Linked DNA regions of Homo sapiens: all the other regions are linked to region 2. The links come from fine-mapping of genetic effects on gene expression. A gene starts in region 2. Each other region holds a variant in brackets. All regions are shown on one strand. Distances are between the middles of the regions. Region 1 overlaps NXPE3 (neurexophilin and PC-esterase domain family member 3). Region 2 holds the start of NXPE3 (neurexophilin and PC-esterase domain family member 3). Region 3 overlaps CEP97 (centrosomal protein 97).

Region 1 (10,735 bases), 51 kb after region 2:
AGGCTGGAGTGCAGTGGCATGATATGGCTCACTGCAGCCTTGACTTCCTGGGCTCAAGGGATCCTTCTGCCTCAGCCTCCTGAGTAGCTGGGACTACAGGTATGTACCACCATGCCCAGCTAATTTTTGTATCTTTTTGTAGAGACTACATTTTGCCATGTTGTCCAGGCTGGTCTTAAACTCCTGAGCTCAAGCATCTGCCCACCTCAGCTTCCCAAAGTGCTGGGATTACAGGTGTGAGCCACTGTGCCCAGCTGAGAGTTTTTCTTGTCGTGAAAGAACTTGACATTTCCTCAAGGATTTATAAAGGAGGCTGAGGAGTAATTTTCCCAGGAGAATTTTAAAAAGAAAGCGGGCATTGCTCCTCCAGTGGTTTGGAATGATGCCACTTGATTGTGCAAATGATTTCTTATGATCTTGTCTGGTTTTCTGTTATTTTTTGATTTGGTGACATAGCTCTCAAAGATTTGGTGACACAGCTTCTTGAGTCACTTTCATCTCTCTTAAAAAAATTTTTTTTTTAACAACTTTTAAGTTCAGGGGTACATGTGCCAGTTTGTTTCATAGGTAAACTTACGTCATGGGGGTTTGTTGTATAGATGATTTCATCACCCAGGTGTTAAGCCTAGTACCCATTAGTAATTTTTCCTGATCCTCTCCCTCCTCCTACCCTCCACCCTCCAATAGACCCCAGTGTGTGTTGTTGCCCTTTATGTGTCCATGTGTTCTCATCATTTAGCTCTCACTTATCAGTGAGAACAACTTTCATCCCACATCTAATTTGTCTTTCTTCACTCTGGTGTGGAAATTTTGATAGAGATTCCAATATCACTTAAACGTTTCCCAGAATATTTAGATAGAATAATTTAGTTTCTTCTGAAAAGTTTATTTTAGGCTAGTGCCACATGGTTGTGAATATTAGCATGGTAGCCAAATAATAGTTTGTTTAAATGTATATTTCCCAATATAAATATAAGGGGCATCATAATTTTTAAAAACTATAAAATCTAGAAGAAAAATCTATGGATAAAATCCATAATTCTATCATCTGAATGCAATGAACATTAGCATTTAGGTATATTTTCTTGCAGGTTTTTTAACCATATACTTATAGAGAATATGTAATTTGGGTCTGTGTTTTTTACATATAAATATTTTTCTATGTTAAATAGTCTTCATAAGTTAATTATAAAGATCTGCTTAATAGTTCTGCTACTGCAGTTTTCATTATTAGATAAGTTGGTCATTATAGTTGGACATTTAGGTTTACAATATTAAAGCAGTGGTTTATATCAATTTCAGTGGTTTAAAATATGAATTTCTATTTTGGAATGAAAGTATTAATTTAATGTAGTGAATCTCATATTCCAGAACTGAGATGATTGATTTGATGCTATTTGTGACAGACAGAACCCATAATAAAGCCTTTCTATGCAAGTTACATTTTATAGAATTATCCTACTAAAAGTAACCTTTCTTCAGCGAATGCAAAACAGACCTTTGGTGTTCCAGTATGATTCATTTTGCCATTCTGAACAACTATCATTTTAATTAAGACCATTTAACTGACACTTCCTGGATTCAGTTATTAAGTTTCAGATTGAAACTTGATCCAGTTTAATAACTGAATCCAGTTTCACATTTATCAATCTGAAAACTTAGTTTGCAGATTGGTAAATCAGGGTACTTGACAAGAATAAATATGGTACGCCTTTATATATTCATGTGTTACATGCCAGAAATGAGTCTGTTTCTGGACCCTGTTCAAGGAAATAGTGATGACTGAGAGAGGTACAGGGAAATAAACACCCAAGGGAAACAACAGAAATAAGCCTCCCCAACTTTCTAAAAAACTGCTCAGCATTATCTCTGTGGATTCTGGGTAAATTCAGCTTTTTAACATCAGCTAGTCACTAATGCCAGAAATTCCACTTCAAGTGTATTTATTTTCTTGTGTTAAGCATTATTCTACCTGGTTTATGTCTACAATGTAGTATTAGTGTACTTAGGATTCTTGACACCTCAGTGTGCAATAAATAAAATTTTGAAGTTGTTGTTTTTCATTTGAAGGTGAGACCACAGCCCCTGAGTGCTAAGGGGACCTGGGAATCCTAGGGGAATGGAGGTGGTGGACGATAAGAGGATGGTTGAGGGCAGGAGTTTAAAGGACACAGAAGCTAGGAGAGCAGAAAATGTACTCCACCACCTTCTGTCTAACTTGTCTCTTAAAAGTGCTTTTACATTTTAACTTTTT[A/T]AAAAAATGTGGGCCGGGCATAGTGGCTCATGCCTGTAATCCCAGCACTTTGGGAGGCCGAGGTGGGCGGATCACCTGAGGTCAAGAGTTCAAGACCAGCCTGACCAATATGATGAAACCCCATCTCTACTAAAAATACAAAAATAGCCAGGTGTGGTGGCACATGCCTGTCATCCCAGCTACTCAGGAGGCTGAGGTGGGAGAATCGCTTGAACCCGGGAGGTGGAGGTTGCAGTGAGCCGAGATCATGCCATTGCACTCTAGCCTGGGCAACGAGAGTGAAACTCTGTCTCAATAAATAAATAAATAAATAAAAAATAAAAAAGTGTGAACTTAAATATATTTATATGTGTGTACATATATTTTCTTTTTTAATATTCTGGTTAAATGAGAGGCCATCGGGCCTCTTTTTAAGAGTCTAATGATGTGTATATCTAATGCCCATTCCAGCTGGATTGTAACACTGCTTGGGGAAGATAACTTAAAAAAAAGTAGTACCGAGATTACAGCAGCTAGTGTCCTAAATGGAAAAGAAGTGAAACTAAATGTCATAGGAGAAATCCTTTCAGTTTTGTGCAGTGGTTCATTTGCTGTTAAATCTACCCCATTACCATTCCCCTTACTCCTTGAAAATAAAGTGATCTTCATGTTACAGGACCATTGCTTTATTTATGTCACAGATTTCTTGTCCTTTAATTAGTCAGTGAAGGCACATGATTGCGATACTACTTTTTGATTGCCGTATTGTAAAAGCTATATGGTAAAAGGTAACTCCCTCCACCCGCCCACTGCACCCTCACGTTTAGGGGCCACACAGAAAAAGCGAAATAAGATGAGGTGAATCTAATGAGAAGGCAACTCTAATGCCCATCAGGAGATTCACTAGGACATTTTAAAAGGACGTCTTTAAGGAAAAAGTTTTGTTTGTAGATGTTGCCTCTGATTCCTCCCTGCGGCTCCAGTCCAGGTCTTGGAGCCGGCCCTCGAGGGGAATGTCCGGGACTCGGGTCGGTACCTTTTTGGTCTGGGAATTTCCAGTGTGCAGAAAAAAAATCCACAAATCTAGGCCTCGCTGCCCCCTCCCTGCCTCCTCTGGCCCTCCTCAGTGCCCACGCAACCCGGTTCGAAAGAGAGGATGACCGTATTCTGCATTTTAGAAAACAGGCTCTTAGCTTCCCCCGCCCCCGTCCTCACTAGAGTGGAGAACTGAAAGCGAACGCTATAAAGGGCGCCAGTGAGAGGGGCTGGCCTCCTCTTGCCACGAGGTCAGACGGCGAGTTCTTAGAGAAAAAGGCTGCTTAGCTGCTGCTTATCATGTAACCTCAAAAGGAAACTGATCGTCTTTCTCATGCTGTCACGTACTTGGGTTATTATCGCTGATTACAGCTGGAAACAATTGATTTGCTCTTACGTATTTGTGTGACTTGACTCTTCAAACACAAAGGTATATTTTTATTATCTGATATTTTATTAAAATATCTTAAATGGTAAGATTTTTTTTTTCTTTTTCTTTCCTATTCCCATAGTCAGATTCTTAACTTTGGAGTCACTCTCCTATGTTTGAGTAGCCATACTTGCTTTGGGGCAAAATATTGGGGGATAGTTTTTTGGAGAAAGAAAATCTGGGATGTTTTTGTAGTTTAGTAATAGCAAGAATCATGTCTGTTTGCTTTAAAGGCCCAGGAAGGACTGAGATACTAATGGAGGAGATCGATAGAATGGGTGATGAAGTATCATAAATCTAATGTAACACTATCTTCTGTCAGTGACCTAGAACTATGATATCCCGAGGCAGAAGTCTCCCAGGAGATTTGATGTGTGGGTTTAGAGGAGTACTTTCCCACCAACCGTAGGCATGAAACTATATGGGAAAATATATCAGAGTAAATTGAAATACTTTATAGCATGCCCTCATTCATTCTTACAGCTGTAAAATTAAAATGTATGAATGGCCATTTTATGAATGAGGAAAACCTGAAATTTGATGATTTGGCTGGACCCCCAGATTCATGATAATCTGTATATGTTAAGGGGTTTTGTTTGAATAAAAGCACATTTCTAAATAGAATGGATTAGAGATTCTCTTCATTGGGATTAGTGAATTCGCTGCAGTGGCTGAAGGTGCTGTCCCAAAGAGGATGACAGTTACGTAAATTTTAAGCATTTGGTAATATATATTTCCTCTATTTAAATCTGACATCTAAAGAAATATCTGGCTGGGTGGAATATTTTTTTGCTTCTGTTAGACAGTAGGTTGTTTAGACAATAAAAGGAGAGAAAAGTTTATCCTAGTCTCATTCACCACCCCGCATAATCCCTGATGGAGCAGGGCATCAGCCACACAGATCATCTAAACAGGCAGATAACCCTGCCTGTTTATTTATTTGGCCTCAGAATACGGTGTATGGTCCACCACCCCTCTCCACCGTCTTTCTAACATCATCCTGCTGAGGCCAAAGACACAGTTGGGCAGGGTACAGGCGTGGAGCACTGCGGTGGCAGAGTCAGTCTGAGAGGAGTTAGCACATGACATCAGTGCACAGTGCAGATGACGGAAACATTTGGCAGCATCCTCTCCAGTGTGGAGGTGATGACCGAGGTCAGCATAATCCAGCTGTTCAGATACAGACTTTTCCTCACTGAGGAAGAGGAGGCAAACCCTTCTCTTTCTTGTCCTGTAACAGACAAGACAAGAAAGCTCTCAGAGAGCAAAACAAACCCTTTCAGAAGCTACAGAGCCATGGAAAGCATTACTGAGGGGAAAGATTTTCTAATTGTTCTGAGACCAATAATGAATTGCTCCTGAAAACACCATTTTCTTTTGGCTCATAGCTGACACTGATCTGGAGGCCTCTTGATTTTTTTCTCCCAGGTTAACAGGAAGATCTCGAGGGCCCTGGCTGAACTTCACCTTTTGGCTTTCTTGGCCTGATGCTGAACTCTCGAGGGTGAGAAGGGCTGATATTTCTAAACAAGTAGCATCCAGGTGTTACCTAGCTTCTGGCTGATGTCAAAAAGGGCAGTGGGATTTTTCTAAGATTTTTCTCTTAAATTAGACATTTTTTTGAAGTTGCTACAAAATTACTATGAATTTTATTTATAGGCATTTTACTGTGATTTCATGAGAACTAAGATTTTTTGTGTGTGTGTGTGTGTGTGTGGTTTAGTAGTATTTTTTTAAACCAATTTGTTGAATTTCTGCTATTTTCCATAGCAAGAGGACATATGAATACATCTAAGAGGGGAATTCAGCTCTCTGCTTACTGACAGTTTCAGGGTTATGTAATCTTTAACAGGCTTGGAGAGCATCATGCCCCCTCTCAGTTTTGGTGAAGAGGCTCCTTAAAACTAGCATATGTGGTTTCTGATTAAAGCACTTTCTGTTCCTTTAATTTGGGATTGTCTGTGAAGTAAAATACCTTCCTTTCAACCGTAGGGAATGAAAATATTTACTGCCGCTGATGGAGTTAGTGGATTGGGAATTAACACTTATTAAACACTTGTTTTGGGAGCTTACCAGCAAGATCTCATTTAGCCCTACAGCATTTTTTAGGTAGCTGTAATTAGCTTTATTTTATTTATTTATTTTTGTAACTTCAACTTTTATTTTAGATTCAGGGGGTGCATGTATAGGTTTGTTACCTGGGTGTATTGCGTGATGTTGAGGTTTGGGGTACAACTGATCCCATCACCCAGGTACTGATCATAGTTATTTTTCAGCCCTTGCTTTCCTCCCTCTCTCCCCCATCTAGCAGTCCTCAGTGTCTTTGTTGCCATCTTTATGTCCTTGAGTATCCAATGTTTAGCTCCCACTTAAAAATGAGAACATGTGGTATTTGGTTTTCTGTTCCTGTGTTAATTCACTTGGGATAATGGCCTCCAGCTGCATCCATGTTGCTGCAAAGGACATGATTCTATTCTTTTTTATGGCTGTGTAGATTTCCACAGTGTATACGTACCACATTTCCTTTATCTAGTCCACTGTTGATGGGCATCTAGGTTGATTCCATGTCTTTGCTATTGTAAGTAAGTGCTGCAGTGAACATACAGGTGCATGTGTCTTTTTGATAGAATGGGAAATATAACCACGACAAATGGTGAATTCTGTCATGGTTATATTAAACAATAATCACAATGCTACATTCTCTATACATGATACCAAATATCTGAATTAAACTTATCAAAATACTGTTAATTACCTAGATGTTATATCTATAAAATGCCAACCTCCAGATATTTGGAGACATTAAAAATGATTTTTTCACTGTTTGTTCAGATATTTAGCAACATGCAGGCACTTTTAATATTGGTAGAAGACTTTTGGATATGTTTTAGCATTGAGTAGTTTATGTGCATCCCCATTCCTCTGATTGTTTCAGTCAAGTTTGCTAGACAGCCTAGTACTGTGAATCTGTAGAGGGTCTAATACTGTAAATCATGCGTTCTTAGAGAGGGTGATATTATCTCCAAGAGGGCAAAAATAGGTTCTTCAGGGAAAAATCTTAGCTATTACAATAGTTTGTGGCCCCCAAAGGGCCATAGTACATAATAGATATACAGTATATCTGTGATATTAAACTTTCATCAGGGGATGATTAGGAAAAAGATGTCTAAAAAGACCCTGTAGTGGGGTCTAATACTGAAAGAAAGGTTGAGACATGTCATTGTAAATGCTCTGGATGTACTTATTCAACTGAGGTCAAAAGATTTTTCTGTGGTTTGTTGTCTTTTTGTGTCTTGCTTTGTGTCTACATCCTCATTTTTCATGGATTTTAAAAGTACTGGTTTCCAGAGGGGGAACAACGTTTTTAGTTTCTTTTCTTTTCTCTTTTCTCCTCCTCCTCCTTTTTCTCCTTCTCCTTCTTCTCCTCCTTCTCCTCTTTTTCTTTTTCCTCTCTCTCTCCTTTCTTTTTTTTTGATACAGAATCTCCCTCTGTCGCCCATGGTTGGAGTGCAGTAGCCCCTTCTTGGCTCACTGCAAACTCCGCCTTCCGAGTTTAAGTGATTCTCATGCCTCAACCTCCTGAGTAGCTGGGACTACAGGCACATGCCACCACGCCCAACTAATTTTTGTATTTTTAGTAGAGTGGAGTTTCACCATGTTTGCCAGGCTAGTCTTGAACTCCTGACCTCAAGTGATCCATCTGCCTCAGCCTCCCAAAGTTTTGCTTTTTTTTTGAGACAGAGTTTTGCTCTCCCACCCAAGCTGGAGTGCAGTGGCATGGTGGCATGATCATAGCTCACTGTGTCCTCTACCTTCTGGGCTCAAGTGATCCTCCTGCCTTAGCCTCATCAGTAGCTGGGACTACTACAGGTGCATGCCAGCATGCCAAGCTTCTTTGTTCTTTTTTGTTTCTTTCTTTCTTTTTTATTTTTTATTGTAGAGATGGGGCTTGCTATGTTACCCAGACTGGTCTCAAACTCCTGGCCTCAAGGGATCTTCCCACCTTGGACCCCAAAGTGCTGGGATACAGGTGTGAGCCACCATGCCTGGCTTCATATTTATTTCAGGAAAGCTTTATTGATTATATCCTTAAATACTTTAAATATATATTTTTAAATTGTGATAAAAGATACATAAAAGTTGCCATCTTATCCATTTTTAAGTGTACAGTTCAGTGCCACTAAGTACTTTTCATATTACAACTTTTGCCACCACCCATTTCTAGAACTTTTTCATCTTCCCTTTGACTGAAACTGCATATCCATTAAACAATAATTCTACATTTCTCCCTCCCCCAAGTCCCTGGCAACCACCCCTCTACTTTTTGTCTCTATGAATTTGATGACTCTACATACCTTATGTAAGTGGAATCATATAATACCTATCTTCTTATGACTGGTTTATTTCATGTAGCGTAATATTTTCAAGGTTCATTCATGTTGTATAAATGTCAGAATTTCCTTCCTTTTTAAGGCCGAATAATATTCCAGCGTGTGTGTAGGTGTGCATACCACACTTTGTTTATCCATTCATCTGTCCATGGACACTTGGATTGTTTCTTTTGGCTATCATGAATAATGCTGCTGTGAACATGGGTGTACAAGTATCTGTTTAAATCCTTGCTTTCTTTACTTTTGGGGATATATCAAGTCATTCTATGTTTAATTGTTTTAGGAACTGCCATACTATTCTACACAGTGGATGCACCATGATGAATTTGTTTTTAATTCATTTTGTGCAGTATTTGGCACAGTGCAGTGAATAAGTGCGTACACCATGAATATGTGATAGAAAATGACACGAAGTTCTGAGTAAATCTGCGCAGTGATTCGGCACCACTATTAAAACACTGTCTCCTATTTATTCACCCTTGCATGTCCACATACTACAGTGCACACACTTATGAAGATGTGCATGGTTGAGAATAACTCCTATGAGAATCATTGAGGTAATGCACTTAGATTCCATGTGGGTCAGATCTTTTTGGAAATTTGGACCGCTGGCAATGCAGTTCCACATCTTAAACCTAGGGAGGCTTGCTGGAGGTTTAAAAGGGCCAGAGCTACAAAGGTGATCCATAGATGTGGGGATTAGGTCTTGTGAATGAAGATGAACTGAGGACACTTTGAAGATAGGAATTGTGTGAGTTCTGATTTTTACCCTTCTCCTCCCCTTCCACACCCATTCCCTCACCTCTGTAGCATAGCACAGGGTGACTTCATAAATTTTGGTTGAACAAATAACCCAGGGTGGAAAAAAAATGAAATGATGATTTATTTTTTAATCATAACAGCTGTGAAAAGTTGTTCTGAAGGCCATAAGAACTTTCTATGTTGTATCTTTGCTATGGGAAAAGGAGGTGCGTTTAATTTGAGGTGGAAGATAAGAGTTTGGAAACTGAAAGTGATCACTGGGCAAGGCTGCCAAATTTACCCTTGGCATTTCTAGTGTCTTGAGAGATGAGCTGTCTGAAAGATGGCAGAGGCTGATATATCATGGACCTTCCCAACCCTGCTCTTCTGTGGTAAGGTTTCGTATCTTGTAAACAGCCAATGAAAACAGTTCTGTGTGTTTACCTCTAGTATTGAACAGTATCCAGCATTTAGATAAGAAAGGGATTGTTAAACCCAACAGTAATGTCAAAATCTAGGGCAGAGTGACAGATTGCAGCCAAATTGAAGCAGGCAGGAGGTGGACTGGGTGGTGATAATAATGTTAAAGGACATGCTTTCTCCACCCCATACCTCACTTAGGTTTGTTGGCTCTCCAAACTTCATGGTTGTTCATTTTTGGGAGCCTCTCTTAAAATGCAAATAACCTTTAAGAAGGGTTACTGTTGATGCCTTGGTGGGAATTAATTTTTAGATTCTTTCTTGAAATTTTACTGGATAAGTAGGGCACAGAGACTGCCCCAATCAGAGTGCAGATAAGGGGTGAGGTAGAGTGGCAGGAGCAGTGCAGGGAACAGAATGTGAAGGTTAAAATCAGACTTGGTACCTCCCCAACTCTCCTTCAGCTGGCTTTCTTGTTTCTGTTCTTTGTGCCACCACTATTATCCTCAAGGCCTTGGAGTTACCTCTGACCCTCATCTCTCTTTTCCCTGCCCTGCCCTGCCCTTCCCTTACCTCCTTCTCTCTCTCTCTCCTTCTCTTTCCTTCCTTCCTTCCTTTCCCTTTTCCTTTCCCTTTCGCTTTCCTTTCCTGTCTCACTCTGTTACCCAGGCTGGAGTGCAGTGGCTCTATCTTGGCTCACTACAATCTCTGCCTCCGGGGTTCAAGCAATTCTCCTGCCTCAGCCTCCAGAGTAGCTGGGACTACAGGCACCCGCCACCACGCCCGGCTAATTTTTGTATTTTTAGAAGAGATGGGGTTTCACTGTGTTGGCCAGGCTGGCCTCGAACTCCTGACCTCAGGTGATCCACCCGCCTCAGCCTCCCAAAGTGCTGGGATCACAGGCGTGAGCCACCACACCCGGCCCCTCCCCTGTCTTTCTGTGTTCAGTCTCTTGCCTATAGATTAAATGTGTGAAATCTCTAAACAGTTCCCCTCTTTCCATGCCCAGGAGCACCACTTCAGTTCAGACCTCCATGACCTGTCACATTGACTGTTGCAGAGTCTTTCCTGATCACTTCCACACAGCTGCCACTGTGATCGTGTTTTTATCTTGTTCGAAACCCCTGAATGGCTCCCCATCACATCTGCTGTCCATTGTTTGCAGGCAGCATCAGGGCCCTGAAGGGTTCCAGACTTGACTCTGTGGTCCTCCTCTTCTCCTATGTTCTCTTCAAGTTGGGCCGATGGTCCAAAGAGGCCAAAATGCTTAACAATGAAGTATTAATTAGAACTTTGAAAAATGAGTAATAATTATAACTACCATCATTGAGTGTATATTATGTGCCAGGAGTTGTGCTAGGCATCTCATGACACTACCACGTTTAACCTACCTACTAGCTGAATGCAGTTAATATACCCATTTTATGGATGAGAAAAGAGTCTTAGAGAAATTAATTAAAGCTGGATGGTTATTAAGTGAATGGA
Region 2 (10,966 bases):
ATTTCAATACTACACCACCTTCATTACTATAGCTTTATACTAAGTCTTGAAATCAGGTAATGTTTGAGTCCTTTGTTTTTTTCTAATGTTCTTTTCTTTGAGTATAGATGCTCTGTAGTTCTGTGTCTAAATTTTACCTATAATGCACCATTTCCATTTTTAGTTTCTTTAAAATAGAGTAAGAATTTAAAAACATGTATAAAGCCATCAGAATGCAGAATACTTCTAGGTGTTTATAATTTCTCCATCTGATTTTTGACACATTTCTTGCCCATACCTAACTCAACTGCAGTTTTTTTACCTTTTTAAGCAATTCACTTTTGAGTCTTTCCGAAACACTCAACTTTGTTTTCCTTGAATATTTTTTGTTTTTACACTAGATTTCAAAGGTTCACATAATAAGTGCTTAGATTGCCAGGCGCGGTGGCTCACGCCTGTAATCCCAGCACTTTGGGAGGCCGAGGTGGGCGGATCACAAGGTCAGGAGATCGAGACCATCCTGGCTAACATGGTGAAACCCCGTCTCTACTAAAAATACAAAAAATTAGCCGGGCGTGGTTGAAGGCGCCTGTAGTCCCAGCTACTCGGGAGGCTGAGGAAGGAGAATGGCGTGAACCCGGGAGGCGGAGCTTGCAGTGAGCCAAGATCCCACCACTGCACTCCAGCCTGGGTGACAGAGGGAGACTCCGTCTCAAAAAAAAAAAAAAAAAGTGCTTAGATTATATTATTATAATCACGTTATAACTGGAATAAACTGGTTTGGAAACAAATACGACTCAAATTGGTGGGAGCAGAAGTCCATATTCTGGAGAGGGAGTAGGATAGCAAAGCTTTTCTTGTATTGTTTCATCTATCTTTGAAGGAAAAGAAAACTTTTTGCCCCCTCAAACAATTGAAGCTGATTCCCAGTTTGGTGATGAAGTGGATGTTGGTGCTTCATCAGATCTGAATTAGCAAGAGTATTGGTTCCCAAACTTTCTGGTAATCATAATCTGGGGAGTACATATTGTATGATCCTATTTATATGAAATTCTGGAAAAAGCAACACTATAGGGAGAGAAAATAGATAAGTGGTTGTTAGAGATTGAGGAACAGATTGACTAAAAAGGGCTTGCATGTGGGAATTTTTAGGGTGAAACTATTTTGTATGGTACTGTGATGGTGGATACGTTTGTCTACAAACTTGTCAAAATCCATAGAACAATACATCACAAAGTCTGAACTTTTTTCAAGTTTTGCCAAAAAATAAATCTCTATTGAGGATGTCAAGGGGATCTCAGAATGGAATGTGGACTATGACAAATGACACCAACTGTATTACAAATTTATGACATAACCTCACTGAGCTAGAGACAAAAAGAACTGTATAGGAACACTGTACTCTGGTTGGTAAATGTTTCTTACAGGGGTACAGGTTGTCTATTCTGTAACTGCATCTATACTAGGCTTAAACAAATAAGTAAATATAGATAATCATGGCCAGCTATCTCACTGTTAGAAAAAGAAATTACAAATATGCAAAGGAGAAATGCAGGAATGAACCCTGTGGTGCTGGATTGGAGTTGGAGATATCAATATGAACTCATGTCTACACAGGTAGTTATGGAAGTAAATATAGACATGTATGTCTATATAAATGTAAATGTATATATAAAGATACAGTGCATATGTTTATACATGGGTTAGTATACCCATGTACATTTTTAGCTCTGTACAGGCCTAGAAAGAATGATCCTTCAGTAGCAACAAGCATACATAGCACTCATGTCTTGGTCTCTACAATTCTTCAATAAAAGGGAACAAGGCTCTTTGGAGAAATGGTTGATTCCAGGGGCGGAGCAAAGAAAAAAAAAGTGATCCCAGAACATCTTAAGTGCCAGAAAGTAAGGAAGTGATAAGCAAACAAATGATCAAGCATGTAAAAGAGATACATGAAGCAACCTGAAAGAGGTCCCAATGGCAAAAGCTGAAATAATTTGAGCAGCAAAATAACAACAGATTATAAATCAAGGAATAAAATAAATATCCATGAGTGCACCCTGATGTAAATTATTGAATAAATAGCTGGAGAAGAAGGGGCAACTCTTTCATTTTTTTTTCTAAGTTTTTAATCCTCTCAGGGTACAGAAGGACAACTCTTAGAGAAGACTTCCAAATAATAAATGCAGAAAGAATGAAGGAAATAGGAAAATCACCATTCGAAAACCACTATAATAATTGCTACAACAGAAATCCACGATGAATACCTAAATTAGTGGGCAAAACTATAAGAAGAGATAGAATATTTGTGTAGCTTCAAAGTATCTTCCCTTAAATATATATTGATTATTATGGTGGTTTAAACATGTACCCAAAAGTTCATTGATACTCCTTCCTTCATAAGATAAAGCTTAATTTCCCTCTCCTGAGTGTGAGCTGGATTTAGTGACTTGCTACTAATGGATGGAGTATGGAAAAAGAAAATTAGCAACTCTATTGCGGAGAAACGTAGCATATAACACCTCAATCAAATGATCATGGTTAACATCACCAGTGATAAATCATGTCACATTTTCCTTAATCTGATGCAGTGAAGACATTTCATTCTGGTGTTCTTTCCCCGAGTCTAACCATGAGTAAACAAACACCAGGCAAATTCAAGTTGAGGGGTAGTCTACAAAATGCCTGATCAATATTCTTTTTTTTTTTTTGAGATGTAGTCTCACTCTTTCTCCTAGGCTGGAGTGCAGTGGCGCAATCTCGGCTCACTGCAACCTCCACCTCCCAGGTTCAAGCGATTCTCCTGCCTCAGCCTCCTGAGTAGCTGGGACTACAGGCGTGTGCTACTACGCCTCGCTAATTTTTGTATTTTTAGTAGATATGGGGTTTTGCCGTATTGGCCAGGCTGCTCTCAAACTCCTGACCTCATGATCCACCTGCCTCGGCCTCCCAAAGTGCTCACACCTGTAATCCCAGCACTTTGGGAGGCTGAGGCAAGTGGATCACTTGAAAGGCCAGGAGTTTGAGACCAACGTGGCCAACATGGTAAAAAACCCTGTCTCTACTAAAAATTAAAAAAATTACCTGGGTGTGGTGGTACACGCCTGTAATTCTAGCTACTCTCAAGGCTGAGGCAGAAGAATCGCTTGAACCCGGGAGGTGGAGGTTGCAGTGAGCCGAGATTCTGCCACCTCACTCCAGACTGAGCGACAGAGTGAGACTCCATCTCAAAAAAAAAAAAAAATGCTACTGATGTTATTTTGATTATCAGTGGAATTTGATTTGAGGACTACTGAACTGCAGAAATCAAGAGTGGAGGAAAAAAAAATTGATCTCATTTTTCCCTAAACTATGCATGTGAGATTAGCCATCATTAATTATAACTTTTTTTTTTTTTTGAGACAGTTTCGCTCTTGTTGCTCAGGCTGGAGTGCAATGGCGTGATCTCGGCTCACTGCAACCTCCGCCACCCGAGTTCAAGCGATTCTTCTGCCTCAGCCTCCCGAGTAGCTGGGATTACAGGCGCCTGCCACTATGCCCGGCTAATGTTTTTGTATTTTTAGTAGAGACGGGGTTTCACCATGTTGGCCAGGCTGGTCTCAAACTCCTGACCTCAGGAGATCCACCTGCCTCAGCCTCCCAAAGTGTTGGGATTACAGGCATGAGCACCGCGCCTGGCCAATTATGACTTTTAAAAGGAAAATATGTCCATTAATTTGAGAGCATGGACCAACGCAGTAGTGACATCAACTACTTCACTCACTTTCAGTCTCTTACCCTTGGCAGCCTCCTCCAATTGTTCATGGTGTTTTGGAACAGAGTGGTTGGTACCTAATGTGACAGTGGTCACTTAATTTTCAGTAGGTAGATGGCCTTGGGGCCCAAATTTCAGTGACTTGTTCAAAGGGAGGAAGCAAAGGAACTGAATGAGGAACTGACTTGGGCTCAGGAGTATGCATGTAGGCCTCCGTGAAAACATCTGAATGAACACAGAGTCCACTGTGGTCAAGAAATATAAAAATACTTAATGTGCTTGTGCCTCAAGCTTCTGCCATCAGGGACAGGTTTATTTGCTTTTATTTGTCTACTCTTAAGATCTATGCTTTGTTTTGCTTAGAGAATCAAGTTTAGCATTAATAAACACTAGTGTGTAAACTACATTTTCAGATGGGGCAGAAATGACCAGTTCCTTTGGTTTCATATCATCATATAAACATTTTTTTATTTTTTGAGACAGGGCCTCACTCTGTCACCCAGGCTGGAGTGCAGTGGCTGCTCTTATTTGTGGTTATGACTGTAAAATATAGGTAAATATAGGTAAGATCACTCAAATGCCTCAGGGTTATGAGTGCTTGGGGGAGAATGGGGTCAATGAGGTCCAAAACCATGACCTAGAAGTCATCTTGTCCTAAGTATTTTACCACTTGTAAGACAGCCAAGCTGTACATGAGGCGGGGGATCCTACTGGGAGATAAAGCATAATCAGAGCAGAAGTCTAGTATATGAGGCTCTTCTTCGATAGCAGAAGGAAGCTACCCTTTTATGTCCTCAAAAGGTCCCAGAGTGCTGTATTTCCTCGAGGAAGAAGGAGTATCAGATCATTACTACAATGGTTGAACTAGTTTACAGTCCCACCAACAGTGTAAACGTGTTCCTACTTCTCCACATCCTCTCCACCACCTGTTGTTTCCTGACTTTTTAATGATCGCCATTCTAACTGGTGTGAGATGGTATCTCATTGTGGTTTTGATTTGCATTTCTCTGATGGCCAGTGCTGATGAGCATTTTTTCATGTGTTTGTTGGCTGCATAAATGAACACTTGGACACAGGAAGGGGAACATCACACACCTGGGCATGTTGTGGGGTAGGGGGAGGGGGGAGGGATAGCATTAGGAGATATACTTAATGTAAATGACGAGTTAATGGGTGCAGCATACCAACATGGCACATGTATACATATGTAACAAACCTGCACGTTGTGCACATGTACCCTAGAACTTAAAGTATATTAAAAAAAAAAAAAAGAAGATCATTACTACAGAAGAGATCTTCCACCCTGTGGCAGAACTTCCTTTTATCCCATTCACGGATCTGGTTGCCCACGAAGCAGGCCTGCCATGAAAACATCTGAATGAGCATGCAGAGTCCATTATGGTCAAGAAATGGAAAAATACTTAGTTGTCATGTACATTAATTATTTTTCTTAAACCTTGGGGTAATAGTCCGGGGGCAGGCCTGCTTTTGGGGCCTGTGTTAACCCCACTGTGCTCCAAGCACAGAGAAACACGGTGCAGCCCACAATTCCTTCTGGTTTCTTGAACAAGTGTCTTCTCAGGACTCCTCTCAGTTCCTGAATTTCACAAAACTGCTACCGACGTTTTACCAGTTAGAAAAATGTCCAAAATAGGATAACCCAGAATTGGGGATGGTGGAGGGTGAGGAAAGTATGCTTTGCCAAGAGACCGACATCATGTACAGTGAGAGTAAAAGGAACGGGCTGTTTTACTGGCGAGTAGAAGTTGTTGACTAATGTCAAAGCAAGGAAAAGATTCAAGGATCCGCTATATCCGTGCTTATACTTGGCAAATCGCATTTCTCTGGTTCAGGGCACAATAAATTCCATCACTCCACAGGAAAGACTGCCCTACTAGAGTCAACTGCGGTTGTGGGCACTTTCGCTGACAAGCGAAAAGCCTTGAGGTAGGTGGATGCTCCCAGGAAACTCAGACGTCCGAAGTTCACGAGGAGTTGGGTCGTGAGAGGGGCCAGACCTCGATCCGCGGGGCGACAGCTGCAGTGTCGCGTCGCGAGCAGGAGCTTGGCGGCGTAGAGCGCCAGGGTGCCAACTTCGCTTCCAGGCCTGTGGGTTCCGCCCGGCGCGTGCTGCTGTCAGTCAACGCCCTCGGCCCGCCCCCGCCGAAGCTCCACCAATCGTAGCCGGGGGTCGGAGGTGAGGAGACGTCGCCGGGTGAGGAAGCGGGGGGCTAGCGGCCTGGCGCTGCGGCGACCGACCGGGGCGTCAGGATCCCTGGCCCCCGGAGAGCGAAGGGCGGGCGGGTCCCGGAGGTGAGTGCTGGATGTGGTCTGTGTGCGGACGTCGGGAGGGGCCGCTGCGGGCGGAGCGACCCATTGCCCGGCTCTGCCAGCGCGCTCCTAGACTGCGAAGCCCCTCCCTCCGCGCGCATCTGCTCCCGAGTCCCCAGCCCCGTGCTGATAGGTGCAGCCCCTGGAGTCGTGGCTGTGGGCATAGGTGCCAGGGAGGGGAGGCCCGGGTCGAAGGCATAGGCAGAATTGGAGCCCTGGGTTGCCAAAGCGTCGCAGCTAAGAAGCCGGAGCCCAGGCTAGTACCGGCGGGGCGGGGCGGGGCGGGGCCGGGAGCGAGCATCTCCATCCTCAGTTTCCTCCACTTGCGGCAACGCCACAGCTCGGTACAGTTCGGACCTCCACGCCGCAGCGAAAGACTTCTGTCCTCCAGGCACCTTCACTAACCCGGTGCGGAGCACTTGGCGACGCCTCCCTGCCCATCTCATATCTCTCGGCTCATCGCTGCTCTGGGCACCAGCTGCCTCTTGGCTGGCGCTGCTGTCACACGGTGGACTGTTCTGGCCTTACTGAGCTGCCGTTTGGGGACATCAGATTCAGGTCGTATGGGGAGAAACGAGTGTAACTTTACAAGGTGTGATATGGAGACCCTGGCCTGTTGCCCATTTCTGCCTGATCAAAGGCCACTAGGGTGGTAATAAGAGGGGTTCCGAGGCAGGATTTATGCAGCATTTGTGCAAAATTGTAAATTTTCTTTGCTTTTCATTATTTACATTAAAGGGGGATTGTTGCCACATTTCCTAAAGATAAAGAATCACACTGCTTTGGTGGGCCTCCCCGCTCCTCACTGTGGTTAATTATCATTTGGAACATCAGGATATATTTGAAACTGGCAGGACTCCCAGACCCTGATAATTGTTTGGAGGCAGCAGTATACTATTTCTCCGTAGTGTTTGGGTTCTGCTTTTCTTTGAATTTGTTTAGTATTTTTTTTTCCATGTCTGTTATCCTCACAATCTCTTTGGGGCCAATAGAGTGCTGTTATTTGTTACTGAGAAAGGAAACGAAGGGATAAATCACTGAAGTGGGGTTAGCCTTCCCCATTGCCTGGGAATTGGGTTGTCCTGACCTGACAATTTAAGTTACAATTCAAACATCATTTTGGAAAGGCCATCCTTTTACCAACTGAAACGAATAACAGTCCCTGGCCACTCTATACTAGTGGTTCTCCCACTTGGCTGTATGTTGTAATCATCTAGGGACCTTTTTAAAAAAAGCTACTTCTTGGGCCTATTCCTACAGATTCTGATTTAATTGTTTGAGTGGGGCCCAGTTGTTTGTATTTTAAAAAGCTTCCACGATGATTATTAATGTTCATGCAGGGTTGAGGACCACAACCTATCAATGTGTTCAATATTTAAAAAATAGCACTTAGTACAGTGTGACTTATATAACTGATTTTATTACTTCTCCACTTGCTATGTAACCTCCATGAATACATGGGGCCCTGCTTTGGAAGAAGGGCAAGGGAAGGTCCAGATGAGTCAGCACTTTGTGCATGTGAGGCTGCGGGACACGAAGGAGAAATGGAATCTGTGGAAACAAGTCCTGCAGACTACTGCCCCTGCTTCATCTTTTTTCAAGGATTGACCCTATTTGGTTAACCCATCATTGTTAGGGTCCTGGATGGGTCTCCAGTTCTTCATTCTGTAGATCCTGCCCTGTTTCAAGGTCTTACTCAGCATCCTATGAAATACAGCTACTCTTTGCAAAGTTTGAAATATATGCATTTAAGTGTAGATATTTTCCATGTAAATCTGTGCTTTTGTCTCTTACTATTGTTCTGAACTATATATTCTGAACTAAAGTTCCAGACACTTGCTGTGACTAGTACAGTTACATTTATTTGGCCAACAGGTCAGAGTAGTTAGGATAGGGACTGCCTCAGAAACTGGACAGTTTCTATGCAGTTGTCCTATAATATATTATCTTTGTGGAATGGTTGCCTGAGAACATTAGCTCCCCAGAGGATAGGGTTGCTGTCTGATTTTCTTTGTTTAATATTGAACTCAGGAATTTCATTTGTGTTACTGACAATTGTAATTCCAAATGATGTAAGTGACTGCTTTGTAATTCTCTTGTGAGATGGGGGTAGGAACCCTAATGGCAGTCTGGGGTTGTTGTCACAGGCCATAAAGAAGTTAGATTGGCCACTATGAGTCTTGGATATGGAAGTAGGCTTAATAAAAATTTGGCAGAACACTTCCAACAAATACTGGGTTCCACATGTAAGGCAGAGCATGCATTTAACTTTTTGCTTGTTCTTTGCACATATTATAAAAATAAAGCATGAGTAAGTGGTGGTCTGACATTTGAAAACAGGATCACTCAAGTTTAGATTCCTTGAATAATAACTTTTAGATCTGTACAGATACCCCTTTTTTCTGTAGGGGAAAACAAGATCATTGGATCATTGAACTAAATAATTATAATAGTTTTTAAGAAAAATAACATTTGGAGCTTTTATCTTTGGTTTATATTTTTTCACTTATATCGCTGTTTATAAAGTTTTGACCTTCAGCCAAGGTCTGAGAGTGATTTACCATGTTGAAGTTCATGTATTTAAATAGACTATTTAAATTACTGTTTTTTATTAGTAAGGAAAAGGAAACGTTCCTATGCCCACTCCTCCCACTATATCATGTATAACTCTCTTGCCTGTAAAATTGTACTCTTAATTTCTAATGTTTTTCTTTACTTCATTTTCAGTATCTTTAACCTTTATATCATATGCATATTTTTGTTTCAGCAAGAAGAATTGTATAGAAATGTAAAAAACATTTATGTGTGCTTCACATGTGGCATGAAAAAAATGAGGACCTCTGGTCAAAATTGCCTGAGTTCAGAATTTCATGCTGGAAGGAAAGTTAGACGTAACTTCTAATTTCTAGTTCCAGTAAGCATCTCTTCTTGGAAAATTTCCAAAAAAGGTAAATTACATTGAATTATATATTTTTATTTTTTTGGTTAATCTGAGGAACTTTTTTCTATAATCATTCCCTGCCAACACTGTTGTTCTTACTTGATTTTAAGGCTCCTTGCAAATAGCATTCCTGTTATAATGCGTAGGTTTTATGTTTATAGGAAAATACCAAAAACCTGTTACAGTTTTTTTTTTACACTACAATTACCTCATGCCGTGAAATAGTTTTCTTCTTTTACTTAAAAATCTTTCAGTTTAAGTTGAATTGATTTCACAGATGTGATTTAATGCTTTGTTTCTGCTATGTCTCATCTTTAATTTTTACTTTTAGAAATTGGTTTTATTCTTTATTTTATTTCATTTTTTTTTGAGACAGAGTCCTGCTCTGTTGCCCAGGCTGGAGTACATTGGTGTGATGATCATGGTTCACTGCAGCCTCGACCTCCCAGGCTCAAGCAATTCTCCTACCTCAGCCTCCTGAGTAACTGGGACTATAGGTGCGTACTACCATGCCCAGCTAATTAAAAAAAAATTTTTTGTGTGTGTGGAGTTGGGGGTCTCACTATCTTGCCTCAGCTAGTCTCAAACTCCTGGTCTCAAGCAAACCTCCTGTTTTGGCCTCCCAAAGTGTTGGGATTATTGGCGTGAGCCACCATGCCTGGCCCAGCTTTATTCTTTGTATTTGTGATTTTTATTTCCTGGTGAAAAATTAGGACATACAGATAAAGGAGAAAACAAAAACTGCCAAGAGGTGACAACTATTAAAATTTTAATATATATCTTTTCTTTTTTTTTTGAGACGGAGTCTCGCTCTGTCACCCAGGCTGGAGTGCAGTGGCGTGATCTCCGCTCACTGCAAGCTCCGCCTCCCAGGTTCACGCTGTTCTCCTGCCTCAGCCTCCCGAGTAGCTGGGACTACAGGCACCCGCCACCACGCCCAGCTAATTTGTTGTATTTTTAGTAGAGACAAGGTTTCACCATGTTAGCCAGGATGGTCCCGATCTCCTGACCTTGTGATCCGCCTGCCTCGGCCTCCCAAAGTGCTGGGATTACAGGCGTGAGCCACTGCACCTGGCCTGGTATATATCTTTTCAAAGAGAGGTCTGTCTAGTGTGCCTCACGCAACATCTATTTAGGTGTACAAATGGGTCTCTCAAATGTCAGTGCTCTACTTACAGCACAGAGTCAGGTCTTTTCCTGGCACAATCCTCCTAAATTATTGTCAGTAGAAGCCTCTAGCTGGGAGGGACTTCTTGCATTGCTGCCTCTGGTCCTGTAGTTCTTTTGCTTTAGAGTCTCCTGCCCTTGCCTTCTTTCTGCATCACTGACAGCTGTGTGCTGCTGCTGCCTGGCTGAACCACACTGATGTCCTTTAAATGGCTAGTGTCCACACAATGCATGACCACACCTGCCTATGGTGCAACTAAATTCCTGTGGACTACCATCTTTGGTCTTTTCCCTCTCTGGCCATTGTGGAAACCTGATTTTTTTTTTATGGACAACTTTTTGAGAAGGATTTCAATGGCAGAACAGTTGGGACCCTGATGACAGAGTTATCCTCTATTTTACAGCCAGTTTCTTCCAAGAAGTTATAGACAGTTTGAGGTGGATGAGTGTCTGGATATTGGAGAGAGGAGGTGTCAGGAAATGGAGAAGCACAGTCTTTCACATTTCCTGGCATCCCTGTGGAGGTGGCCAGGACTGGTGGATTTATTTCTCCTTAAGAAGGGGCTGACATCTTGTCTAATATGAGTGTAAGCTTTTCAAGGGGAATTTCTGGCACTTAGTACAGTGTGTGGTATAGCGTAGGCCTCCATAATTATTTGTTGCATAGATTGTTGAATCATTGTGTACCATGTAAAGAACTAAGTACCTTGAGCAAATCAGAAAAGTATAATGCAGTATCATTAAGTTGCTTTTCTCTGATATATGGTTTTTTAAAAAAATACAGTCATAATTGG
Region 3 (10,966 bases), 48 kb before region 2:
GGCTTTGAACCCTTCCTCGGAGGTGGCCAGTGGCCGTGATAAAATCTAAGGGATGATCCAGAGCCCGCAGTTCTGTACTCCTTGTTCTTGCACACGGGTCCTAGGATCGAGTTTGGTCGCTGCCCAGTAGAGCACAGGACTGTGTGGGTGCTTCTGTGGCCTGAAGATACCTACCTCTTTGGGGCGCCGGACGCGAGCTGCTTTTGTTTTGGTTACAGCTCCGAGGCTTGGCAGCAGTCAGTCCTCTAAATCGGGGACAGGGCCCAGGGGTCGAGGCCCGTCTTCATGGCTTAGACCAGGAGTGCATTTTCTGGGAGCTGTAAATTCTTGGGGGAAGAGTTGGTGGATGGTTCTCAGACCTCTCTGTCGACCCCTTGGAATTGTGTACAAAGGCTGTGCACTTTTCTGAGACAGCACACCCCTTTCATCAATTTTTCAGAGGGGCTCACGACTCCTCACATGCTAAGAGCCATTAGACAACGGGAAAACGTTGAAATCCTCCAGGAGAGCAATCTGGCATAATTATTTCCTGCAGTAGTCCTAATCTGGGTGTAAATTTGAAATTGGCCGTTTCTCTGGCCCCGCCCTCTTTGGAGATCGGCTTTTCTTAAACCACACCTCTCAAGCCCACCAGGGCTACTTAACTGTTAATAGCAGTTAACATTTACAGAGCACTTTGTATGACCCAGGCGATGTTCTCAGTCCTTTTTTTTTTTGTTTTTTTTTTTACATTATCTCATTTTCTCTGTAGAACTACATTTATAAGGCAGGTATTATCCCCACTTTACAGAGTAGAAAAGGGAGCCCAAAAGAAATCAATAATTTGCCTAATATACCACAATGGTTAATTGGTGGAGCCAGGGTTTGAACGTCTATGTTATACTAAAGTGCCTTATTGAGTGCCCGGTGGCAGGAACGGGGCTAAGTACTATTCATATGGTTTCTCTTTTAATTCTCATATCAAGCTAGGGAAATGGGTGTATTATCCTATTTTATGGGAGAATTAGTTGAACTATACTTTGATTTTCAAAATCACAGTTTGGGCACTTTAGGATATATTGGTAGTTAGGCTGTAAGCTGGTGGATTGCAGTCAAAAGTTTAGTAACATTTAAACAATAGTATCATTACTTAGGCACAACAAATGGAAGTAATCGTCCATATTTAAATGTGAAAATTTTCAAAGTATATCTTAGCAACTTGAGGAGAATATCACACGTCTAGTTTTAATTTGATATTTCTGAAGAAAAATGAGTAATTCAATCTGGTCATTTAGAACTCAAGATTGCTTTAATTTTACAATGTTGATATTTATTATGCTCTACTGTTCTTTAACTTGAAATGGTATAGAGATTTTATAATTCCAGCCCTATGCTTAGCTGTTGTACATGTTTTATTTTATTTGTGTTTTCTAACATTTCCGTTTCTTTTCAAGGATCAGTGGTCAATTGGTCAGGACAGGGACTACAGAAATTAGGTCCAAATTTACCCTGTGAAGCTGATATTCACACTTTGATTCTGGATAAAAATCAGATTATTAAATTGGAAAATCTGGAGAAATGCAAACGATTAATACAGGTAGGTATTGCAATCTGGGAAATGGTTACATAGGATCAATTTATTATTAAACAAAACAATAAAATAACCTGACAAAAAGTAACTGTGCAGCCCTAGCAAGCAGTCATTGTTGCCTTAAATTTTTACATGACAGTTTCTTCTGAAGATGAACATACATGTACTACATTGAGAGTAGATTAGAAAAAAAAAGCATTGTTAAGAAAAGGAAGCATTTTATTTTGCAAAATACTGTGTTACTAAGGTAACCTTTTACCTCATGATGGGGGTAAAGAGTTCATTCATTCCTTCATTCAAGAAATGGTTACTGCGTCCCTCTTATATGTCTGGCACTGTATTAAGTTTTGACTGAGAGTTTAACAGCACTATTCTTGTGGAACTTACATTCTCAAGTTGTTGCTGTGTTAAAAATGTCTTAGTAGTTAGAGGAGGTCTGATCGCTCAGCTTTATCTGTATTTTCTATTGCCCAGGAACAATAACAAAAAACTGATAGTCATACTGTAGAATATTTAGACAATATATGTGAAATGTACAAAAGGAGTTTGTTTGAGAGTGTTTGGCTGTCTAAATAAACCTTTTAAATCACTTTAATGTGAAATATTTTATATATGTTATTCCTAAAAATAACAATATGTTTCCTTTTTACAGTTATCAGTAGCTAATAATCGGCTGGTTCGGATGATGGGTGTGGCCAAGCTGACGTTGCTTCGTGTATTAAATTTGCCTCATAATAGCATTGGCTGTGTGGAAGGGCTAAAGGAACTAGTACATCTGGAATGGCTGAATTTGGCAGGAAATAATCTTAAGGTGAATGGTTTCTTTTTTGTTTACAAAACTATTCTGCGTAAAAAAAATTCAAGCAATGTAGAAATAAGTCAAATTAAAAAGTGAAAGTACCCACTCCCACTCTCCAGGGATAATCTCTGTTAAAATAAACTAAAAATAAATCTCATTTTGAAACATATAATATGACATAATATTCTTTTAAATTTGAACAAAGAATCTATATTGTACTTAGAAAAAAGTAGATCAAACCATAGAGTGTTTAGGAGGGAGACTATATCATGCTGAATTAAGCTTTAAGTAAATGTTTAATGCTATAAGGGAGAATATACAGTTTTAAAAGTTAGGAGATCTGAATTCTAGTCCTACTTGCACTACTTAGTAACTGTGTAATTTTGGGTAAATTAATACATATTTCTGCGTCTTATTTTTTGGCATGCTAGCTGAGAGGACTAGATTACCAATAGCTGCCTTTTATTGAGCCATTAATGTATCTGAGCTACTGTTCTAAACATTTATCTGTATTAACTTATTCAATCTCATGGTAGCCTGCGAAGTAGATATAGACATTATGCGTGTTATAAAGGTGAAGGAACTAAAGCACAGAAAAGTAACTTGCTCAAGGTCACACAGCTAGGAAGTTGCAGGGCCAGAATGTAAATCCAGGCTGTTTGGTTTTAATCTAAACTTGTAAACTCTATTCTATACCACCAACTGTCATATATTATTACTATGGTTTCTTTTGTTTTTTTTTTTTTTTTGATGGAGTTTTGCTCTTATTGTCCAGGCTGGAGTGCAGTGGCACGATCTTGGCTCACTGCAACCTCTGCCTCCTGGGTTTAAGCAATTCTCCTGCCTCAGCCTCAAGAGTAACTGGGATTACAGGCGCCTGCCCACCATGCCTGGCTAATTTTTAGTATTTTTTTAGTAGAGACAGGGTTTCGCCATGTTGGCCAGGCTGGTCTCGAACTCCTGACCTCAGGCTGTCCACCCACCTCGGCCTCCCAAAGTGCTGGGATTACAGGTGTGAGCCATAGCGCCTGGCCATTACTATGTTTTTTTTCAAGCTGTAAAGATCTTGGATGGTATGAACTACTTGGTAGCCCTCTACTCATAGAGAGATAATGAAAGTGTACGTTTACAACCTGACAATCTACTAAATTCTGTTAGTACTGCCCCTTTTCTCTTGCTAAGTTCTTCTACTCTGCTTCTAATAATAAGAGGAGGGAAGACACTCTTTCAGCTGCAAAGAACTAGGGAATAATTTTATTTTTTGATTTTGTTTTCATTAAATAGTGTGATGCTTTTCTTGTGATAGGCCATGGAACAGATCAATAGCTGCACAGCTCTACAGCATCTCGATTTATCAGACAATAATATATCCCAGATAGGTGATCTATCTAAATTGGTATCCCTGAAAGTAAGTATGTTTTCTTTGTCATTTGTGAAGTTTTATAGCAAAATACCAAGAGAAAGTAATCTTACTGACCTAAAATTAGCCTGCTTTGTATGAGCAGATTGCTTTCTTTATGATAAGAATTATGGGCTGGGCATGGTGGGTCATGCCTGTAATCCCAGCACTTTGAGAGGCTGAGGCGAGTGGATGGCTTGAGCTCAGAAGTTCAAGACTAGCCTGGGCAACATGGCAAAGCCCCATCTCTACTAAAAATACCAAAAATTAGTGGGGCATAGTGGTGCGAGCCTGTAGTCCCAGCTACTCAGCTAAAGCAGGATTGGTTGAACCCAGGAGGTGGAGGTTGTGGTGACCCGAGATTGGGTCACTGCACTCTAGCCTGGGCAATAGAGTGAGACTCAGTCTCAAAAAAAAAAAAAGGAATTATGTTAGAATACCAGAAATTAAGTTTGAAACTTTTTGTTGTTAGTTATATAACTCATTTATTTGATGTGAAACTGGTCATTGTAGTTAAGGTTAATTTTATTTACCATTCTCTGAACATGATGGAATTCCCTGTATGCCCAATCAACCAATATTAGTAACTTCAGTTATTATATAGTACATAATCTTTGGTGAGGTTGAGATTAATCATTCCTGAATTTGAGTCTGTCTTTATTTTTTTTTGAGACAGAGTCTTGCTCTGTCACCCAGGCTAGAGTGTAGTAGTACAATCTCACTCGACCTCCCAGGCTCAAGTGATCCTCTCACCTTAGCCTCCCAAGTAGCTAGGACCATAGGCATGTGTACATCACCACACCCAGCTAATTTTTTGAGTGTTTGTAGAGATGAGATCTTTTTCTTTTCTTTTTTTTTTTTAGATAGAGTTCTGCTCTGTCACCCAAGCAGTGGTGCAATCTTGGCTCACTGCAACCCAAGCAGTGGTTGCAGTGGTGCAATCTTGGCTCACTGCAACCTCTGCCTCCTGTGTTCAAGTGATACTTCTGCCTCAGCGTCCCGCGTAGCTGGGATTATAGGCGCCCACCACCACACCTGGCTAATTTTTTGTATTTTTAGTAGAGACAGGATTTCACCACGTTGGCCAGGCTGATTTTGAACTCCTGACCTCACATGATCCTCCTGCCTTGGCCTCGCAAAGTGTTGGGATTACAAGCGTGAGCCACTGCACCTGGCCAGAGATGAGATCTTACTATGTTGTCTAGACTGGTCTCAAACTCCTGGACTCTAGCAGTCCTCCTGCCTCAGTCTCTCAAAGTGCTAGGATTACAGGCATGAGCCACCGAACTGGCCGAGTCTGTTTTTTTGTTTTGTTTTGTTTTGTTTTGTTTTGTTTTGTTTTGTTTTGTTTTGTTGAGACGGAGTTTTGCTCTGTTGCCCAGGCTGGAGTGCAGTGGCGCAATCTCGGCTCACTGCAACCTCTGCCTCCCAGGTTCAAGCGATTCTCCTGCCTCAGCCTCCTGAGTAGCTGGGACTACAGGTGCATGCCACCACGCCCAGCTAATTTTTGTATTTTTAGTAGAGATGGCATTTCATCATGTTGGCCAGGCTGGTCTCGAACTCCTGACCTTGTGATCCACCCGCCTCGGCCTCCCAAAGTGTTGGGATTACAGGCATGAGCCACTGCGCTGGGTCCCAAGTCTGGATTTTTTTTTTTTTTTTTGACATTCAGAATTGCTGTTTTTAAAGTAATAGGTATTAGCTAATTGTCAAAATTAATTTCACTTAGAAAAAAACATGTAGCATGTAGCACTTTTTATGGAGGGGAATGTATCATGCAGTCAAATAAGTAACAGTTGAAATCACAGTCTTGAAAAACATGTAGAACATTTTAAATATTGTTGCCTCATTGGATATTATTACCATCAGATATGTTCATTAAGCCCTAGAAGCAGTATCTTAGTTCACTTTTTCCCAGATCTTTAGCAGAAATCATTTTTAGCAATAATTATTCTAAACATTTTGATGTAGCCAGATGTTGTCCTAATAGATGCTAAGAGAATTCAAATGAACCAAAGATGATTGAATTTTTTTTTTTTTTTTTGCTGGAATAGAAGCCTATTTATCTGATCAGAATCCTGGGTGTTCAGTTTTGGGTTTATTCTTGGTTGTTGCTGACTTAATGTGAGTCAGCTTTATCTGCAAGTAACACATTCTACCTCCCTTTATTTTTTAGTTACCTAGAGAATACAGTTGCAATTATGGATGTAGGTTATCACTCTCTTTTTTGGAAAATTTGCTTTATATGTGGTTGTTTTAATGA[CT/C]TTTTTTTTTTTTTTTTTTTAATTTGAGACATCAGAGTCTTGCTGTCACCCAGGCTCGAGTGCAGTGGTGCAGTCATGGCTTACTATAGCCTCGACCTCCTGGGCTCAAGTGATCCCCCTACCTCAGCCTCCCCAGTAGCTGGAAATACAGGTGCACCTCATCATGCCTGGCTAATTTTTTGATTTTTAGTAGAGACCAGGTCTCACTATGTTGCCCAGGCCGGTCTCAAACTCCTGGGCTCAAGCAATCTTCCCTCCTTGGCCTCCCAAAATGCTGGGATTACAGGCATGAGCCACCACACATGGCCTCTATTTTGATATTTTAAAAGAAAATGAAAAAGTGTGTTAGAAATTGCTCAGTGTCTCATAAGTTAAATCTCACAGCATGCCTAGTTGCTATGCCAAGCATGTGTTTTTGGACAAGTCTTTAAAATATCATGAGCTTAGGATGTTGGTATGAAAACAGAGAGTTGGACCAGAAGATCATCAAGGACCCTTGTAGCATTAACAGTCTTTGATTTGTGTGTGATGAGAAATATAATAAAGTAGATTCCTTTATTCTTATATGTACCATTTTGGTGTTGTCACAATAGGCCAATTTATTTGTAATCTTTTCATTTGTAATTCATACTGTTTTTACTTTCAAGACCCTGCTTTTACATGGAAACATCATCACCTCTCTTAGAATGGCACCTGCTTACCTACCCAGAAGTCTTGCTATACTTTCTTTGGCAGAAAATGAAATCCGAGACTTAAATGAGGTAAAATTTGAGGGTATTTTGTGAGATTCAGGAAGCTGGAAATCCTAGGAAAGACACAGGAGAGGGTTGTGAGCTTACTTTTAGACTGTGAGCATCTTGGAAGAAACTGCCATTCATATGAAATGCTTGGCTCTAGATCTTTCCACTTTTCCTTAGTGTCAGTGGGTCATTAAGGTCTAATTTCCTTTGTAAAGCTGTAATTATCATTCCACTGGGAGGCGATTGGTGGTAGAGGGACATCTACGTTATAAGGGTTTATAAGACTCCCTGTCCACCTTTCCTGGCTGCTGTGATGTTTTCAAAATAGGGTTATTTCTGCTAGGAAACAGTGCTGATATTTGCCAGGGGATTTTGTGCAGCAGGGACAGATGGCTATATTGTTGAAACTTTGGAAGTCAATGGACACTTGTCACTTTTCAGAACAAGAGGGAAATTATCACATTCTCAAATGCTGCCAAAGATATGTAATCAGTGGAAATTTTGTGCTTGACACTGAATAGTCCTTTTGTTCAACAAAGATATCTTTTGTTCCAGATCTCTTTTTTGGCATCCTTAACTGAATTGGAACAGTTGTCGATTATGAACAATCCTTGTGTGATGGCAACACCATCCATCCCAGGATTTGACTATCGGCCGTACATCGTCAGCTGGTGCCTAAACCTCAGAGTCCTAGATGGATATGTGATTTCTCAGAAGGAAAGGTAAACATGTGCTCTTTAACATCACAAATGTTACTGAAAAGACCATTTCTAGTTTACTACAGATTAATAGAGTATTTCTTAAAATGTGCATTTAGATAACAAGAGTATTAGTGCAGTCATGTAGCAGACTATATGCTGGTCATTTAGGATTTTCTGTCATTTCTAAAAAAGGATAAGAAATAAATATTGGCCTGGTGCAGTGGCTCATGCCTGTAATCCTTGCACTTTGGAAAGCCGAGGCAGGAGGATTGCTTGAGCCCAGGAGTTTGAGACCAGCCTGGGCAATATAGGGAGACCACATCTCAAAAAAAAAAAAAAATTAGCTGGGTGTGGTGGTACACACCTGTAGTCCTAGCTACTTAGGAAGCTGAGGTGGGAGGATTGCTTGAGCCCAGGAATTTAAGGTTACAGTGAGCTATGGTTGTGTCATTGCACTCTACCTTGGGTGACAGAGTGAGACCCTGTCTCTGAAAAAAAAAGAAGAAATCTCGGCCCCAGAGATTGGAGCTAGTAGTCTTAGTGCCCTACATACAACAATTTGATTTCTAAAAGTTCTTTTGTTAATCAGTTGTTTGGAGCTTGGAACACTTTTGCTTAGAAACCATCATGTTATAGATCCTGTGTAGGATCTCAGATCAGTCTCACAAAAGCTTGTAATATATTAATCTATCACATATATAAGGGCCGTATTTTTTATTCATTTTATTTTCTATTTTATCATCCAGCTCCAAATGCCATGTAAGGGCAGTATTAGTAGTATCTTAGAATTCTCCAAATACTCATTATAATGATAACTCTGGGAAAATGCAGAGTTTTAATTTGGAACTAGTAGCAGATGTGGTGATTGGTCCTCCTCTTCTTTTTTTTTTATTTTTTTATTTTTTATTTTTTTTTGAGACGGAGTCTCGCTCTGTCGCCCAGACTGGAGTGCAGTGGCGGGATCTCGGCTCACTGCAAGCTCCGCCTCCCGGGTTCACGCCATTCTCCTGCCTCAGCCTCCCGAGTAGCTGGGACTACAGGCGCCCGCCACTACGCCCGGCTAATTTTTTGTATTTTTAGTAGAGACGGGGTTTCACCGTTTTAGCCGGTATGGTCTCGATCTCCTGACCTCGTGATCCACCCGCCTCGGCCTCCCAAAGTGCTGGGATTACAGGCGTGAGCCACCGCGCCCAGCCTTTTTATTTTTTTTGAGACTGAGTTTCACTCTTGTTGCCCAGGCTGGAGTGCAATGGCGCGATCTCTGCTCATCACAACCTCCACCTCCTGGGTTCAAGCGATTCTTCTGCCTCAGCCTCCCAAGTAGCTGGAATTATAGGCATGTGCCACCACACCCAGCTAATTTTGTATTTTTAGTGGAGGCAGGGTTTTTCCATGTTGTTTAGGCTGGTCTCAAACTCCTGACCTCAGGTGATGCGCCCGCCTCGGCCTCCCAAAGTGTTGGGATTACAGGCATGAGCCACTGCACCTGGCCAGGTTCTCCCCTTCTTATACCTGTGAAGCAGCAGAAGCAAGAATTCCCCCACCTGTAAATCATTAATAGTTTCTGTGGCTTGGAGCTGGGATCCCTGCAGAATGGAGTCTTCTGGACCCTGATACCTGATCAGTGGAATGAGAGCTTTAGGGGAGGTAAGGAACTAGGATATGGGAAGGAGGGAGTGGAATTGGGATAGTGAGAGTTGAGATGACTTTATTCTGTCTACTATGCTTCATTTAACTTTTTTCTCTCAGTACATACACACATGCATTATGGACTCAACACATACATTATCCCTCGCCTTTTTTTGTTCTTCTCTACTACAGACAGTAGTTACTTCAGGAGTTTCCTGATGGGAGGACGGGTGGTAGATTACAGACAGCGTCTCCCTTCTCTGTCTCTCTGCTGTTTTGTATAGTTTCTGAGTAAAGCACAGGGCCGTGAGGAATGGCAGCCAAGAGCTAGATAGTGGTGGTGCTGGTGTAGGGTGAGGGACATATGTCAGGTCTAGTTTGCCTACAGGAAAGGGTGGCTTTTCTTTTTCCTGCTGTGAATGTTGCTCTGAGAATAAACCTTATTTTGTTTCAAACTGTGACTAGTTCTAGATTTGGAATATGGGTTTACTTGGATAATCCTCTGTACAGTTGTTGACTTCTTCTGTGGGAGTAGGACTGGCAACATTTTCATGTCTGAGAGGCAGCATGGTGATGTGGGCAGAGATAAAGGTTTGGTGTAAAGAGAGACCCACAAAGAGAGATGAGACCTGCTTACGATAGACAGGGGAAGGCTTCACTTTTTTCTCTGCTATCTATTAGCTGTGTGGCCTTGTCAAGTTCCTTAGGGCTTTTCTGAGGCTAAGTTTCCTCATCTGTAAAATGTGAATAGCGGTACTACCTTGCTTTCATGGATGGTAGGATTAAGGATGATGTATAGAACATAGGACTGGTCATATAGTAGGTGCTTAATAAATGATATTATATAAGGATAGAGACTAAAGGTTGAAGAGTTTGTTGAAACTAAAGAGAGTGTCAAGACAGAAAATATTTGTTGATTGGATAAATAATGATAAAAAAGTCTGTGTTTCTATACTGTGGAAATGGTTTTATTCCAAGTGACTTTAAGGTGAATTTGAATATTTTTTGAGCTTTCTCCATAATGCTTTGCAAACATTTAATTTCAGAGACTTCAGGAGATAGGGAAGAGTGGGCTCCCACTTGGGGTAGCCTCTCTCTCTGGGGTTGTCCTGCACTAAAGAAGTGTGTGGGGGGGTGGCTGGCAAGATGGCTGAATAGCAACAGCTCTGGTCTGCAGCTCCCAGTGAGATTAGCACAGAAGGCGGGTGATTTCTACATTTCCACCTGAGGTACGTGGCTCATCTCACTGGGACTAGTTAGACAGTGGGTGCAGCCCACAGAGGGTGAGCAGAAGCAGGGTGTGGCGTTGCCTCACCCGGGAAGTGCAAGGGGTCAGGGAACTCCCTCCCCTAGCCTGGGGAAGCCGTGAGGGACTGTGCTGGGAGGAACAGTGTACTCTGGCCCAGAAACTACGCTTTTCCCATGGTCTTCACAACCCCACACACCAGGAGATTCCCTCCAGTGCCTACGCCACCAGGGCCCTGGGTTTCAAGCACAAAAGTGGGTGGCCGTTGGGCAGACACCAAGCTAGCTGTAGGAGTTTTTTTCATATCCCAGTGGCGCCTGGAACACCAGTGAGACAGAACCGTTCACTCCTCTGGAAAGGGGGCTGAAGCCAGCAAGCCAAGTGGTCTAGCGCAGAGGATCCCAGCCCCACAGAGCCCAGCAAGCTAAGATACACAGGGTTGAAATTCTTGCTGCCAGTACAGCAGTCTGAAGTCGACCTGGGATGCTCGAGCTTGTCGGGGGAGGGGCATCTGCCTTTACCGAGGTGCGAATAGGTGGTTTTCCCCTCACAGTGTAAACAAAATCTCCCGCAAGTTCAAACTGGGCAGAGCCCACTGCAGCTCAGCAAAGCTGCTGT

What was found.
Region 1: its variant is fine-mapped to the expression of NXPE3 in whole blood (INTERVAL, PIP above 0.99).
Region 3: its variant is fine-mapped to the expression of NXPE3 in monocytes (Fairfax 2014, PIP 0.95).

Annotation. Positions count from the first base shown.
Region 1 is chr3:101,824,487-101,835,221 of GRCh38, forward strand. NXPE3 (neurexophilin and PC-esterase domain family member 3) reads left to right here. Exons shown (of 8, transcript NM_145037.4): 8 at 1-3,745. It also overlaps a transcript of NFKBIZ not described here. Among named protein-coding and RNA genes, the nearest start is that of NFKBIZ, 20 kb to the right of the region's middle. RefSeq lists a silencer at 2,332-2,411 and enhancers at 3,179-3,228, 3,379-3,558, 5,001-5,060. The variant A/T (reference allele first, on the strand shown) is at 2,255.
Region 2 is chr3:101,773,279-101,784,244 of GRCh38, forward strand. It overlaps NXPE3 (neurexophilin and PC-esterase domain family member 3), which reads left to right and starts at 5,933. Exons shown (of 8, transcript NM_145037.4): 1 at 5,933-6,046; 2 at 8,832-9,012; 3 at 9,382-9,502. RefSeq lists enhancers at 5,747-6,041, 6,606-6,655 and a silencer at 5,846-6,195.
Region 3 is chr3:101,725,161-101,736,126 of GRCh38, forward strand. CEP97 (centrosomal protein 97) reads left to right here. Exons shown (of 11, transcript NM_024548.4): 2 at 1,434-1,576; 3 at 2,223-2,381; 4 at 3,676-3,777; 5 at 6,680-6,793; 6 at 7,328-7,494. Among named protein-coding and RNA genes, the nearest start is that of CEP97, 6.0 kb to the left of the region's middle. RefSeq lists enhancers at 80-149, 321-932. The variant CT/C (reference allele first, on the strand shown) is at 6,032.